Regions from separate parts of the Homo sapiens genome. Here regions 2 and 3 are each linked to region 1. Evidence: fine-mapped expression QTL. A gene starts in region 1. Each other region holds a variant in brackets. All regions are shown on one strand. Distances are between the middles of the regions.

Region 1 (5,229 bases):
TATGTGGAGATTTGCATAACCATAAAATTGCCAGATTTAGTGCTTGTAAAATTGTGTCAATTCCATATGGCAGAGTTAAATCTATCTGTATTTCATGATGCTCCACGTTGAGCACCATAATTTCTAGAGACTGCCACCTGAACTAGTTTGAAAACCAACATTACACCCCTGACTGCCTTTTGTTATTTCTCAGAGAAGGAATGTTATTAGCCTCAGTGGAACTCGCAGGGAAAGGCTTAGATAGAAAGTAATCTTAAAAAAAAAAAAAAAAAAGACCGAAGGAGAATTAAATAGGGTAAATTCAAGTGTAAGAAGGATAACATAATAGCTCCTGTTTCCTGAGTCCTTATTGTGTAACAGGATTTGTGCTAAGTATTTTCCAAAATTTTGTTTCATCTTTACATCCATCTGTGAGGTAAGTATTAATATCACCCACGTTAGACAGATGAAGAAAGGAAGGTCCGGAGACCTGTTCAAGGTCACACAGCAGGTAAGTGTTGGGTGACACTGAGATTCAAACTGAGGTTTTCCGACTGCAGTGATGATGACATTGTAATGCTTCTTTGTGTGTATGTGATTTTAAAAAACTGACATGAAGTGCACAGATCTTTTTGCATATGTATACACCCGGGTAACCATTAAGATATTGAATATTTCCAGCAAACCAGAAGGCTCTCTCCTGTCCCCTCTCAATCAATTCCCCTGTAAGTAATCACTACCTTGCCTCTAATACCATAGGTAGATGGGTTTTCATTAGATTAATCTAACTTTCTGGAGTTAACACCAAAAGATTCCATATGTCAGCCCTTCACCTTGCCATGTTAGCTGTATTATTCAAAGCTGCTCTAGCTCTGACTTTGCAAGCATTCACTGTAAAGAAGAGCTGTTGGATGGACATGTTCATATCCAGTTTCTTGTATTGTTCTGAAATTAATACTAATTTTTGAAAATCGAAGAAACTCCTGGATGAAGTGCTACAGGATGGGGCAGATTAAAGTGCTGTTATCAAACAAACCTCTCTACCTTGGAAGCGCCACAGACAGAGCTTCCTTGATTGATGTAATTTGGCGCATCTATTTCCAATCATGTCATCTGATTAAGAAGTTGGATGACCACGAAAGGTCATCTCAGTTTATGGAAGGGAAGGCGAGCCGGGCAGAGTTGGTAACGGTGATTGCTTCGCATCATCTTGCAGCACGCGATGATGTTTATGTCCCAAATACCTCCCACAGCCGACTTGCTGTTTTATGATAGGAGGGAAACAGTAGAGGGGAAGAAGATCTAGGTGGAGGGTGAAATATGACCTAACATCGTTCGACGAGGTATTAATGTGGTGGCTTTCCCGCCCTTGTCGACCAGCTCTTAAAACCACGCTACTTCTTAGTCAACCTGGCAGTGACAGAAGCAGCGCCACGACTTTACCTCAGGTTTGCAAGCTGTGGTTGGTGAATTTTCAGCCATTATTCTAAATAACAGTCTCGGTCTCCCCACAAACCCCACTGTTGTTTTGTTTTTCTTTCTCATTCTGATTCTCCCCACAGCCAACCGTGGCCTTTTGAAGTCGTCTACAAACTACCACTGAGAATCCGGGAAAGAATAACTGACACTTGTAGGCTTCGAGGACTCTCAGAGTGATATGTGCCTGAGGTGACCGAAGTGGGGGAGATCTAGGAGAGCATTCCGGTCATCAAAGCAGGAGGACAGGCCCTGAAATGGGCGCACGTGACAGCAGCAGCCACCTCGAGAGTGACATCACCCCTGAGGGCGGAGCCCAACTATGTAGGGCCTTGTCAGTTACCGAGCGTCCTCCCTGCTGCCCCTCCAAATGCCACCCACAAGTCCGAGCCCCCCGGGGATACGAGAAATGCCAGGACATCCCAGAGCGCCAGAGCCAGGGCCCCGTCTCTCCGCGCGGAGGAGGGCTGCGTCCCCACTCCCTCTTCCAGCCGTTCCCCACCCCCAAACTGTGGAAGGGGCGGGGGCGCGCGCGCTCCACCACGCACGCGCCCCCACGCACGCGCGCTCCCTCCGCGCTCGCGCCCCTCCCCACCCCAGCCCGGAGGGGGCGGGGCTGCGGGCGGCCTCAGAGGGTGCGACGCCCCCAGCGCGGCGGCGGCGCTAGCGAGCGGCCGGCGGGGCGCGGGTTGCTGGGCGCGCTGCTCCGGCGGGGCCCGCTGGCACAGCCGCCTCGCGCGAGCCGCCCGCCCGGCGGGGGAAGCTGCGAGCGCTCCGAGCGCCCGGCCTAGGGCCGCTGGCGCTGCCCTCCCGCCGCCACCGCCCTCCGCGCCTCCTTCGGGCGGCCCCGCCCCCATTCCCATCCCCCTCGCGCTCACCTCCCGGCTGTGCCGCGCGCTAGGCGGAGCGAGGCGCCCGCCGCCGCCGAGCCGAGCCGAGGGGCGAGAGCTGGCCCCCGAGCCGCCGCTGACAGGAGCACCGCCGCGGGCTGCGCTCGCCGGCTGCGAGGCCCCGCCGCGCCGTTCCGGGGTGCAGACTCGCCGCGGGGCGTTGGAGGACTGCGAGGTGCTCCGGGAATCGCGGGCGGCGCCGGCGGGCGGCGCGGTCCTCACAGGAGACCCCGGGGACTGGGGCTTGACCCGGAGGTGCAGAGAGCCCCTCAGAGCGGCAGGTAAGGGGCCCGGGGAGCAGGGCGAGGAAAGGTCGCTTCAGTGACAGGGTCGTTCGCCTCCACAGCCTCGGCTCCGGGGAGAGGGGCGGGGGCGAGCGGGGAGACGGCGAAATGGGCAGCGAAGTGCCTCGGTGTCCAAGGCGTGGGGAAGGCTGGCTCCGAATATGACACCAAGGCGGGCTTCAGAGGCGTGTGGGGTCGCCACTTGGCTGTCACCGAAGATGTCATGGAATTTGGTACCTAGAGCGTCTCTGGATGACGGGGACCAAGGATAAGATGCGAGGCGGATTGCTAAACGTGGCAGGGAATGTGGTGCAGAACGAGTTGCAAAATGTGCCCCCAGAATGCAGCATAAAAGTAGTTGCGAAATGTGCCAGGTAAGGCACAGGATGGGCTGGCCTCTGTGGCGTTGAAATTCATGGTCGAAGTGTTATTAGCGATATTAATAATTCCTCTGGGAAAGGAGGTGTAGCATAATAAAAGATTAATAAGGCTCATTGCTAGATATTTTGCCATAGGAAATCGGGAGGAGCTATGATAAGCTATTTTTTTTGAGGTAGAGAAAGTAACCACGTGAAAGAAAAAAAGCAAATTGTGTCTGGCTGTGAGATTGGAAAGAAAAAATAGGGCTAAAATAATTCCAGGTTTTGCCATCAGCGTGTAGAGCATTGGTACAATTGTATCCAGTCTTCATTTCCAGGTGTGGAATGTTTAGAATGGTCTTCACAAAACATAAACAATGATAATTAACATTAGGAAGAAGATTTGGTGTTTCGGGTGTCTTTCACTCTCTTCTCTGCTCCTCTCCAGGAAAAGAAACAAACAAAACCCCAAACGTCTTGACCATAATTATGAGTTAAAGATCATTAGGCAAAGGGAAGTATTTTTCGTATGTGCCCTTTTCCTGATTTTTACACAGGTGAAAATATCTGTAATGAGGAAAACAAAGCAGTGTGGTGAACAAAAGGGATAGATTTTCAGGCATTTTGAGGGGTTGGAGCCAGTATCTATCACAATGGTTAATTATAGAGAACGGCAGTACTAAAATATTCTTGTATGTTCTTGGTGTTGGGATGGTGAAATAAAAAAAAAAAAGAATACAGTAAATTGGCATAAAAAGCAACAACATGGATACTGTCAGTGGAGTGCTTCTTGCAGCATTTCCCAGGTAGATCCTCTTAGGGATGTGAGCACGAAATAAAACGTTAAACATTCTCTTTCTCCCTCTCTCTTGCTCCCCTCTGTATCTAGATATTTATTTATGTCTCTATATAGATATATGTGCATGTATATTATACATACATAAGAAATTACCAACATGCTGCAAAACATTGTGACTTCCATTTAAGAACATCTGTTTCGAGAGGATTGTCAGAACATAGCTGGAATTTCAGAAGTAACAAAAGACAACTCCATGATCTATTTAATGTAACTTATATGTATACATACAATGAGTGTGAATATACTATATAACAAAAGCAGAAATATGGAAATGTGTTCGTTAGAATGTACTTAATTATTGATGAGATTTTAATGTTTTATGTTATAATTCTTGTAAAGAAATTAAATTACATGTGTGAATGCTGTTCTCATTATAGTAATTTGCCAGATAATCTGAAAATTCATACTGATTGGCTTTCCCTTAGATCCAAATTCAGCCATTGAGGGATCATTTGCTTCAAAGACAAAAATAGATTTTCCTTGGTGATTGATTTTGGGTTTTAGTCTTTTCTGTAGATATGTCCCTTACCTTGAGAAGCTGTTGGGGCTGAAGAACAGAGGAAAGGGCCAGAGGAGAATAAAGAGAATTCTGTTGGGTCTTCCTGTTTTGTTCTGACTGTAAGCCATATGTACTGCCACCCCCTACTGTCTGTAGGAAGAGGTGTTACAGAGCCCGATTCTTTTCTTGTTATCACTGCCCCCTTGTGTAAGGGAAGAAATTGATAGTTGCGCTCGGGGAACCAGTCCTCTCAGATTGTTCTTGATAGAGTATTATGTAGATCTGTGAATCACCTATTTTCTTCAGAGTTGAAGGGCTTTAAACTTACTGTTAATCAGGCCTCAGATTTGGTGTCTATTTTAAATATAGGTAGCATTTGATGTTAGGAATTCAGATTGCTTAAGAATGTTTTTGGTACTTTCAGGAAGAGGGTGCAATACAATTACTACTACATTCTTCCCTTATTGTATGCAGGGGATTGGTTCCAGGACCCCCACATATGCCAAAATCCTTGCATGCTCAAATCCCGCAGTTGGTGTATGGAACCATGTATAGGGAAAAGTCGGCCCTCAATATACTCGGTTTTTGCATCCCATGAATACTGTATTGCTTGAAAAAAATCTGCATAGGAGTAGACCAGCACAGTTTAAGCCCATGTTGTTCAAGGGCCAGCTGTACTAGTAGTAACAGCTCACATTTATGTAGCACCTATTCTTTGCCAGTCCCGTTGTACGTTGTTTTAATCAGTTCCAACACCCTATGAGGTATGTGTTGTTATTTCTGTTTTACAGATGAGAATCTGAAACACAGAGAGGTTAAATAACTTGCCCAATACTATATAGCTGAGAAGTAGAAGAGCTAAGTTTCCATTTAGGAATGCTAG
Region 2 (5,229 bases), 390 kb after region 1:
CCTCTCCATGTTCCTAATCAAGCGCAGAGACATGACTCGTATGTTTGTACATCCTTCTTTTCGAGAATGGCTTATCTGGAGAGAAGAAGGAGAGAAAACCAAATTTCTCTGTGATCCGAGGTAAGACATATATCTGTGATAAACAATTCTGAGTCTGTTTTCTGTTTATTGCATGGAGTGTGAGTATTGAAAGTAGAAGTGTTCTTCATTGAACATTTCACATAGAAGAGACATCATCTGTGTTTCTTCTCAAGGCAAGGCTATAATGAGGTTAACTAATTTATTGTTTTACAATGTTATTTCCTTAAGACTCAACATCTGCATAGATATTTAGAATGCTATCCTACGTTCCTGTGTTCTTCTAAATAATTTTCACTGACCCCACAGGGTTCACAGGCTATAATTAAGTTAACCATTTAATGGACTTCCTCAGTATTATTATTCTGATATGAAGAAAGAATTGATATATTGTAAATCTCTTTGATTTAGGGCAGAATCATTTCAAAGTTTTTATTGCCCTTTTATAAAACCTTATCATTTTTAAAGTTTCCAGTGACTAAATCCATTAAAGTCCAGCCAATGCTAAGCTTTATACTAGAAAATACAATCTTAAACCTCCTAGCTGAAAAAGATTTGAAGAGATCAGCTGGTCTATCCATGCTGCCTTTAGATACGTAAGGTGTCATTATCTCCATTTTGCTATAAAGGCCTTAAGATGCTGGATCAACTTGCACAAAGTCATAAGGTTAATACATGGGAGAAGGGAGGGGCACACACCAGAATAGGGATCACAAGTGCATGATATATCCCACCACTCCCCACCCCACACGCACAACAGGATCACTGATTTACCCCAGCACTCTTTCCCAATGAGCTTGAACCTGACTTGAGAATCTTTCTCAACTCAAACCAGACTAGATATGAAACTGTTTCCCTTTTTATTGCATGAAACCTAGTTCTCTGGCATCCTGGTCGGGGTGTGCTTTTACTCCGTCATACTAACATTTTTAAAGACGTATTCCTTTAATAAAGTTGGTGTTTTCAAAAGCCGGGTACATTACTGACTTCATGGAAACAAAGAAGACACCAACAACATAGCTGGCAAATGCAGAGCTTATTTTGGCTCAAAAAGAAGAGGCCAGATTTGACTATGCCTCACATGTGACTCATCAGAAAGAATAAAACTCTGTGTTCATGCTGGGGTTTTATTGCCCTTCACCGTGTCCTTCACCAGGCCTTATTAGAGACAACTGTACTGTGGGCATGCTGCTCAGCCTACTCCATGCTGATTCATCAGAAAATTAGTTCCAGATTATGATGAAGATATTAAGCCAGGCAATAGACTTTGTAGCATTTTCTCTGAGAGGGAAGCTTTTTTAAAGAAACATGCTGTAGTGGAAAGAACATAAACTCTTGAGTCAAATTACCTGCATATAAATCCTGCCTCTTCTAGGAACTTTGACCTTTGGAAAAAGTTACATAGTGTTTCTAAGACTTAGTTTTCTTATCTACATAAGAGCAATAATAATGCCTTTTTTCTAGAGTTGTTGAGAAGTTAAGTGAGGTCATATAGTATGATGCCTAGAATAGTACAGAGTAAAAGAAACACTTGGGGTATGTTCTTTTTCCTCCCCTCACCCTGCAGTAATAGACCCTTCTGGTGTATCTTAGTTAAATCCTGTGGCTAATCGGATAGCGACAGCCATCTTCTGCTGTTATCATTTTGGAGCACAAGATTTTAAAAAGAAACAATAAAAACAATCCAAGTCCCTTCTGTGAATTGTATGATGTTCCCAAAAGGATTTTACTATAAATCCTACTAGAGCTGTTGTCAATATTTAATACAAAGAACTGGCAACTATGTATATAGGAAAAAGAAACTAATGTAGAATTGCCTAATAAACGCTTTGAGATCAGTTCCCAGAGAAACTTTGCTAGCTGATCTGGGACCTTAGATCCTGGGACATCTCAGAGGATTGAAAGCTGAGGTCCAAGGCAACCAGACTACCACTGAATTAATAGTATCCTTACAACAGATGAAATCCTCAGGGGCTCTCAGAGGAGAAAATACGGCTTTTATACAGCCATATCATGACTATACAGGCTTTGCCTTCTCAACATCGCATTTTAACTAGGAGTTTTGCAGCAACCGACTGATGCACTGGGACAAGAGGAGCAGGTACTTCCAACTTCAAATCCTGTATAATCCGTTCCCTGATGATTGAATAGCATGGCTGCTGAGAGATCATCTTATTTCACTTAATGGCAGAGAGTAAAATTGTAAACAGGACCAGGAGTTATCAAAAAAAGCTTTCTTAGATTTCATTTCAGTTGGAACTCAGCCCCCTCCCCAGCAATGGCTGGCACCAACCTTGTTACTAAAGTACTGAAGTATTGATCTCAGTGCTTAAGGCTCCCTAGGTCAATGAGATGGAAATTCACTAAGAATTTAATGCTATTGGCAAAGCCCAAGCTGGTCTTTCAAAGCAGCTGGCTGCACTTGTTTTCCATTTCAGGCAGGTCTGATTAGCAGGACTCTCTCCAGGCATGGTTTGTCTTTGTGGCCTTCAGCCTCCACTTCTTGCACATTGTTTCTCCTTCTGTTCTCCACTTTCTCTCCTTCTCTCTAAAGCATCTTTCAGTAGATCAAAGAAGACCAATTCAGTGCCTCTGAAATCACACCAGGTAAGCCAGTGCCTGACATGTACATCTCTGTGGTGTAAGGAGAGCTTCCAGAGGCAACACAACATTCTTACCCTTTTTAGTCCATTTTCCTGGGCTTTCAGCACTCAATTGCCAAAAAGTAGTTGATCTTCTCCAGAAATAGGCTACCCAAGGAGGTTGCTTCTGCCTGAGCTGAAAAGAGTCAGTAATCTGAGAATGGTGCTGGAAGCAGGAAATAGCAGAGCCAGAGGTTAATGCTACAGCTGAGATTGAGTTTTCATTATTTTGAATACCAGACTGCTTATTGTCTCAGAATCTGGGCAAGGACTTGACCTACCAGAGAGAATGACCTAACGTTACATAGATGTATCGTTGTCTCATTGTCATAGAAATAAATGAGTAACAAGGTGAGTAGAG[TGAGA/T]GAGAGAGAGAGAGAGAGAGAGTATGTGTGTGTGTGTGTGTGTGTGTGTGTGTGTGTATGTGTGTGTGTATCAAACTGTAAGCAGAGTATCACTGAAGAATCTTTTAGATTTGCAGTTTAGGTAAAATATGCCCCTTGAAGCAATCACAAACCTTAGACCATACCACCTCATTCTGCTCTCTGTTTCCCACTGTTCATCACTGTCAGCCTTCTGACATACCCTGAACTTAATCTGTCCTATGTTTTATTCTCTTGGGCACGGAGATATCAGATTAACTCACTAATTTAATAAGCGAATTCCTGCTATTATGCTAATAGTAAAGAGATGGAAAACCTATTTGAGGCAACTTGTGCATTTAAAATAAGACATTTGAGAGAAGTAGTCATCGGCCTTTGTTAGGCAACCTTTTAGTGACTCTCATAGTAGAAATTTAAGGCTGATAGAGTAGACAGTCGGAGCTACCAGCCTTGTGGTGCAGTCCAGTTACTGCTTAATATTTCTATATCGCTTTAGGCTCGCCCTGAATAAATCTCCACTCTGTTCTGTTTCTATTCCTCATTTTCTCAATTTTCATGATATCTAACTTTCCCTTCCATAGGAACGGCTCTCAGATTAATATTTGTGTGTGTGTGTGTGTGTGTGTGTGTGTGTAAGATTTTGCCAGAGATTAAAAGACTACTGCGTTATTATGTGTGTATTTTTGTGGGGTTTGTTTTTATTTTTTTAATACAGTATCTCACTCTGTCACTCAGGCTGGAGTGCAGTGGCACAGTCACGGCTCACTGAAGTCTCAACCTCCTGGGCTCTGGCAATCCTCCTACCTTAGCTTCCTGTGTAACTGTGACCACAGGCACATGCCACCATGCCTAATTTTTTTTGTTTGTAGAGAAAGAGTCTTACTGTGTTCCTGGTCTCAAACTCAGGTTCAAGCCATCCACCCACCTTGTCCTCCCAAAGTGCTGGGATTACAGGGATGAGCTACTGCACCAGCATTTTTTTTTTTTTTTCGAGACAGAGTGTCCTGTCACCCAGGCTAGAGTGCAGTGATGCGATTTCACATCACTGCAACCTCTGCCTCCTGAGTTCAAGCAATTCTCCTGCCTCAGCCTCCCAAGTAGCTGGGATATTACAGGTACCTGCTACCTTGCCCGGCTAACTTTTTTGTATTTTTAGTAGAGACGGAGTTTCACCAATTTGGCCAGGCTGGTCTCGTACTCCTGACCTCAGGTGGTCTGCCCACCTCAGCCTCCCAAAGTGCTAGGATTACAGGCATAAGCCACCGTGCCCAGCCTAGCCAGCCTTATTTTTAAATGTTTGAATAAGATACAAGAAGCTTGTTGTGAACTTCATGTAATGAGTGTTGAGTTGATACAACCTAATGAGATTGTGATGTGGGAGCCTAAGGTTGTGATGTGGGAGCCTAATTTGGTTTGACCTGATTTCCTCAAATTAAAGACAGCAAATCCTGTGATGAATGGAAAGGGAAAAGGCGACACAAATCCTACCTATACCATGGGATAGTTGAGTACTTACTTGATTCTTTATGACCAGAATTGATTGCTTATAATAAGTGGTTTGTCGAGGTTTTTCCTAATTTATTTGACCATATTAGTAAGTGAATTACACGTTGGAGACCTGATGCTCCAAAATCCATTGCCACAAAGCAGGGTGTCAGAGAACAAGCAGTTTGTCTAAGGAAAAAGAGAGGGTGTCCTCCCCAAAGTGAAAAATAACTGTGCCAGAGGTCTGTATAACAGGGCTTCTTATAGAATAGATGGGGTTGAAATGACTACAAAATAAATGGTGAGTTGAAGTTTGTGTTGATTTTGTTTTTTAAATCTAAATATGAGCCTCCAGGCAAGATGACAATTAACCTTACCCTCACTGAAGCACAAACTTGAGGTCACTGCTCCTGATAGCCATTGCAGGCTCCCAGAGCAGACCCTTAAACTGGAGGATGGGTTCTGCTTTCTCAAAGCATTAGGAGAGAATTCAGCAAAATGATGAAGCATGGGAAGGAAAAAGGGCCTCTTAGAACTAAATCAACCCTTAGGAGGCTTGGAAGAGTTAAAGCAGAGAAAAGAGAATGTACCAGACATCTTTTATTCACACTTTCAATTTTTTTTTAATTTTTAATTTTTGT
Region 3 (5,229 bases), 35 kb after region 1:
ACAGAAGAAAGCAGGGATTCCTATTCTAATTTCAGACAAAGCAGACTGATATAGTTTGGATATTTGCCCCTGCCCAAATTTCATGTTAAATGGTAATCCCCAATGCTGGAAGTGCGGCAGGGCCTTGTGGGAGGTATTTGGGTCATGGGAGCAGATCCCTCATGTCTTGGTGCTACCTTTACAGTAGTGAGTCAGCTCTTGAGAGATGTGGTCATTTGAAAGTCTGTGGCACCTCCCCCCAACACACACTGTCTCTCACTCCTGCTCTGGCCACTTCATGTGGCTGCTCCTGCTTCACCTGCCATGAGTAAAAGCTTCCTGAGGCCTCCCCAGAAGCAGGTGGTGGAGCTGTGCTTCCTGTACAGCCTGCAGAACTGCAAGCCAATTAAACCTCTTTTCTTATAAATTACCTAGACTCAGGTATTTATAGTAGTGCAAGAACAGCCTAATACACAGACTTTAAACCAACAATGGTCAAAAGAGACAAAAAGGCATTACATAATGGCAAAGGATTCAGTTCAACAGGAAGACCTAACTATTTTAAACGTATGTGCACCCAACACAGGGGCACCCAAATTCATAAAACAAATTACTTAGAGACTTAGATAACCAACACAAATTTGTAAGCTTTCTTAAAACATTATGAGATTTTTTTTGTAACTTTTTTTTTTTTAGCTAATCAACTATTATTAGCATCAATGTGTTTTATGTGTGGCCTAAGATAATTCTTCTTCCACTGTGGCCCGGGAAAGCCAAAAGATTGGACATCCCTGGTATATGCCCAAAGCAATGTAAATTGTTCTACCAAAAACGCATGTGCTTGGATGTTCATCATAGCTCTGTTCACAATAGCAACATCATGAAATCAACCTAAATGCTCATCAGCGGTAGACTGGATAAAGAAAATGTATATATGCACCATGTAATACTATGCAGGCATAAAAGAATGAGATCATGTCCTTTGCAGCAACATGGACAGAGGAGCTGGAGGCCATTATCCTAAGCACACTAATGCAGGAACAGAAAACAATTACTTTATGTTCTGACAAGTGGGAGCTAAACACTGAGCACGCATGGACACAAAGAAAGGAAGAACACACACCAGGGCCTACTTGAGGATGGAGGGGTGTGGAAGGTGAGGATCAAAAAATTACCTATTAGATACTGTGTTTATTACCTGAGTGACAAAATCTGTACGCCAAACCCTGTCACACGCATTTTACCAAGAAAACAAATCTGCCCATGTCCCCTTGAATCTACAATAAGTTAAAATAAAAAGCTGGCATTAGAATGGAAATATTAACAGGATGTCATGATCATCAAAATAGTACAGAAGTACTTAATAGTTAATTTGATTACATTATTAATTACATAAACATTTTTATGCATGGGATGTTTTACTTTTTTTAAACAACAGGATAAGAAAAGGGCTTTAAATATACAGGAGGGATGAACATTGAAAATGAAAATTGATTGCCTGTTAATAATATAGCAGAAGAAGACATTGAAATAGGTTGTTGAGTCTCCAGCCTTAGTGGACCATTAAGAAGTCATTACTTCTCCTGAATGGTTTAGAATGAGTGTCACAAACATAAAAGCTTAGGGACCATGTAGATAACATAATGTTCAAATCAGCTAAGTGTAAGAAAATTAGAAATGATTGGGGGCCTGTCAATGGCTTGTTATTTTCCTGTCCAGATATTTCACTTGCCAGGGATGTATCTGATGATTCCTCCTGAGAGAGTGAACATCTTAAAATTTGGATGCAAAATTTGGAAAAGCAGGGTAAAATTTAGATTTACATTAGTGTCAATTAGACCAAACTGCCTTCTCCCACTTAGCTTCAATTTGTGGAATTTCTATATTAATATTTTATTATGATCAGTTTTCTATTGGTATGTTAACTTGAGGAAAATCATTTAATCAAAATGTAACTATGAGATGAGTAGCTTTATGTTTTACTTTTCTATATATTGAAGTAATTAAAAAAGTTTTAGAACTAGCAAAAAAAAAAAAAAAAAACCCTCTATATCTTCAAGAAGTAGCCATCACTATAATTTATGCCACCCACCAAAATATTTTACCTAAATCAACTTAAGTATGTTCTCCTGGTCTTTTTTTGACTCTTAGTAAATTTTAAGTAATAAGTTGCTGTTTTTATGATAATGATAATCTGCACTCATTTTTTTCCTTTCAAAACTTTGAACAACTATGTGTAAATAATCAGAGTTTGAGTTAGAAGTTCTAAGTAAGCCTAGAATATTCTTGGTTTTCCCTCAGATAAAATTTTGAACTATTCCTACAATTTTCATGCCTTTTCTTGATTCCCTGGTACACATTCATTCTAGGTAGTCCTCATTGTTCTGGTTGATTTAAAATCATTTCTCGCTCAATGAAACTTACTTTTATTATGCCCCTTCTTTACTAAGTCAGTAAATCTGATGAATTGTGTCTTTGCTCAGTTTATTTACTCATTCAAGAAATGTTGAGAGCCTACCATGAACTAGGTGTTGTGGTTAAAAAGATTAATAAGACCAGGTTTCCTTTTCGTTTTTCTTTTCTTTTCTTTTTTTTTTTTCTTTTTCTTTCTTTCTTTTTTTTTTTCCAAGATGGAGTCTCCCTCTGTTGCCCAGGCTGGAGTCCT[C/G]TGGCAGCTCGCTGCACCCTTTGCCATCCGGGTTCAAGCGATTCTCCTGCTTCAGACTCCCAAGTAGCTGGGACTACAGGTGCATGCCAGCATGCCCGGCTAACTTTTTTGTATTTTTTAGTAGAGACAGGGTTTCACCACATTGGCCAGGCTGGTCTTGAACTGCTGACCTCAAGTGATCTGCCCGCCTCTACCTCCCAAAGTGTTGAGATTACAGGTATAAGCCACTGCGCCTGGTCAAGACCAGATTTCTTTATAAGGGATTTGATATGGACAATGGTATACAAACAAAAATATGTAATTGATAAATTCAGCAAATATTTAGCACTTCCTGTGTATCAAGTATTATTTTCCATTTACAGGGCTGTAGCAATGAATTAAACAGGCATCTTCTCTTCCCTCCTGGAGCTTATATTCTAGTAGGGAAACTGATAAGACAATCAGGTATATAAGATGTCTTTTGGAGGTAAGTATTTGGGGAAGAACACATAAGAAGTTATGGGTGACGGTTTTGGAGCATAAATCATACCACAGAGTTGCCCTCCCCTGGAATTAAGGAAGCTGGTCTTTTGTATCTCAATGATTAATAATTAGTCATTGACTGAGAACCTCTCTAGGGTAGAAGTAGTAAGGCATGAAGCTTTCTGGGCAAGATGGTGCCAGTTAGCCAAAGGCAGTTCTCTGGAGAAGTGGGGGAGCATCTCCAAGCCATTAACAGCTCAGTTATTTACATTTTAAATAGTTTTAGTTATCGCATGTATATCCACTACTTACAGTTTACTGTTAACATTTTATTTTGTTATAATTCATCACATATCTGCCTCTCTATGCCTCCATCAGTCCATCAATCCACCTTATTTTTTGATGCATTTCAAAGTAATAATCTGCAGACATCTATATGCTTTCTCCTATTTAAGCATGAATATCATTAAGTGGATTTTAGCATTTGTTTACATTTTTCATTTGAAAAAAGTAATCATCTTCAAAACATATAGAATATTACCATCATCCTAGAAAGGTTCCTCGTGCCATTTCTAAGTTGATCCCCATATCTACCCCCAAGAGACAACCATTATTCTGATTTTTTTGGCATAGATTATTCTTGAAGTTGGTATAAATGTAATAATGCAATGCATATGCTTCTATGTAAAGGTTCTTTCACTTGGCATATTATATGTTGTGATTTATCTGTGTTGACTGTATGAGTAGTTCATTCCTTTTTCTTGCTGAGTAATATTCCTCTTTGTGAATATCCCATAGTTTATTCGTCTGTTGATGGACACCTAGTCTAGGTATAGGGTATTATAAATCTGTTATGAAAATTGTTGTACTAGTCTTTTCATTATGCATATATGTTTTAATTTCTCTTGGGTAAATAGTAGAGGTGGAGTCATGCATTAGGTGTACAGTAAGTTTCATAATAAACAGCTATATTTTTCTCCAAAGCCATTGTACCATTTTATACTCCTAAAATAGTGTGTTGGAATTTAAATTACTCTTCATTGTGATCAATATTTGATATTGTCAAACTTTTTAAAGTTAGCTCTTCTGGTGGGAGTATAGTGGATAGCTAATTATAATTTGTATTTCTGCAATGACATATAATGTTGAGCCCTTATAATTTGGGTGTGGGTCATTTATATATCTACTTTTTGAAACTACCTGTTCAAATCTTTTACCCATTTGAAAATCGATTGTCTCTTTATTACTGAGTTGTAGGTGTTCTTTATATACAGTAGTCCCTCCGTATCCACATTCCAAGACACACCCCACAGTGGATGCCTGAAATGACAGTACCAAATCCTGTACACGCTATATGCAGTAACTGATCTGATAACCAGGGTGGCTGCTAATTGACCAGTGGTCAGGTGGCATATACAGCTTGGATAAACTAGACAAAGGGATGTTTTACCTCCCAGGCAGGATGGAGCAGGATGGTGTGAGATTTCATCAGGCTACTTAGAATGGTGTGTAATTTAAAACATGAATTATTTCTGCAGTTTTCCATGTAATATTTTTAGACTGCAGGTAACCGAAACCATGGAAAGCAAAACTGCAGATAAAGGGGGACTACTGTATCTTGGATGTAAGTCCTGTGTTATATATGTTTTGTGAATAATTTTTCCCAGTTTGTGGCTTGCCTGTTTTCTTTAATGTTATCTTAGCAGATGTTTTTAAATTTTTAATAACCTCCAAATATATGTTTTTTTAAGTGGCTGTTGCTTTCTATGTTCCTAAGAATCCTTTGTCTACCTGTAAATAGTGAGACAGTCTGTTTTTTAATTTGTTTGTTTTTTTTCAAACTGTACTCTGCTTTCTTGAAGATACTTCCCAGAAACAGTCATGGTATTTCAGGCAGGACATGGGCAGACAATCATTAACAGTGTACAACAACTTTCAGACTCCTTCTTTGATGGACCACCAAAAATCAGAAAGCCACTATAAAACCCATGAAGTCTTCATTTGATGCTCAGAACAGGGAAAGTTTAGAGGGAGGGTTGACATTTCACATTTAGCTGTTGTTTAACAACTTTTCATGAGCCAGCCCTGACTTTCAGGTAGCGAAATGAAAATGGCAAAATTTA

Alleles and levels. Alleles are on the strand shown, and positions count from the first base shown. SD is a standard deviation of normalised expression in the study named. Not every link is listed here.
For the expression in whole blood of the gene that starts at base 2,112 in region 1, allele C in region 3 goes with a lower level than allele G (small effect, 0.34 SD a copy in Lepik 2017).

The links. PIP is the estimated chance that this variant, and not a neighbour inherited with it, causes the effect.
Region 2: its variant is the best candidate, but not a certain one, in a credible set for the expression of TANC2 in whole blood (INTERVAL, PIP 0.79).
Region 3: its variant is the best candidate, but not a certain one, in a credible set for the expression of TANC2 in whole blood (Lepik 2017, PIP 0.56).

The regions. Positions count from the first base shown.
Region 1 is chr17:62,964,124-62,969,352 of GRCh38, forward strand. It overlaps TANC2 (tetratricopeptide repeat, ankyrin repeat and coiled-coil containing 2), which reads left to right and starts at 2,112. Exons shown (of 28, transcript NM_001394998.1): 1 at 2,112-2,626. RefSeq lists a silencer at 1,999-2,188.
Region 2 is chr17:63,355,271-63,360,499 of GRCh38, forward strand. TANC2 (tetratricopeptide repeat, ankyrin repeat and coiled-coil containing 2) reads left to right here. Exons shown (of 28, transcript NM_001394998.1): 14 at 1-120. Among named protein-coding and RNA genes, the nearest start is that of CYB561, 88 kb to the right of the region's middle. The variant TGAGA/T (reference allele first, on the strand shown) is at 3,082.
Region 3 is chr17:62,998,965-63,004,193 of GRCh38, forward strand. All of the region lies in intron 1 of TANC2 (tetratricopeptide repeat, ankyrin repeat and coiled-coil containing 2), which reads left to right. Among named protein-coding and RNA genes, the nearest start is that of TANC2, 35 kb to the left of the region's middle. The variant C/G (reference allele first, on the strand shown) is at 2,645.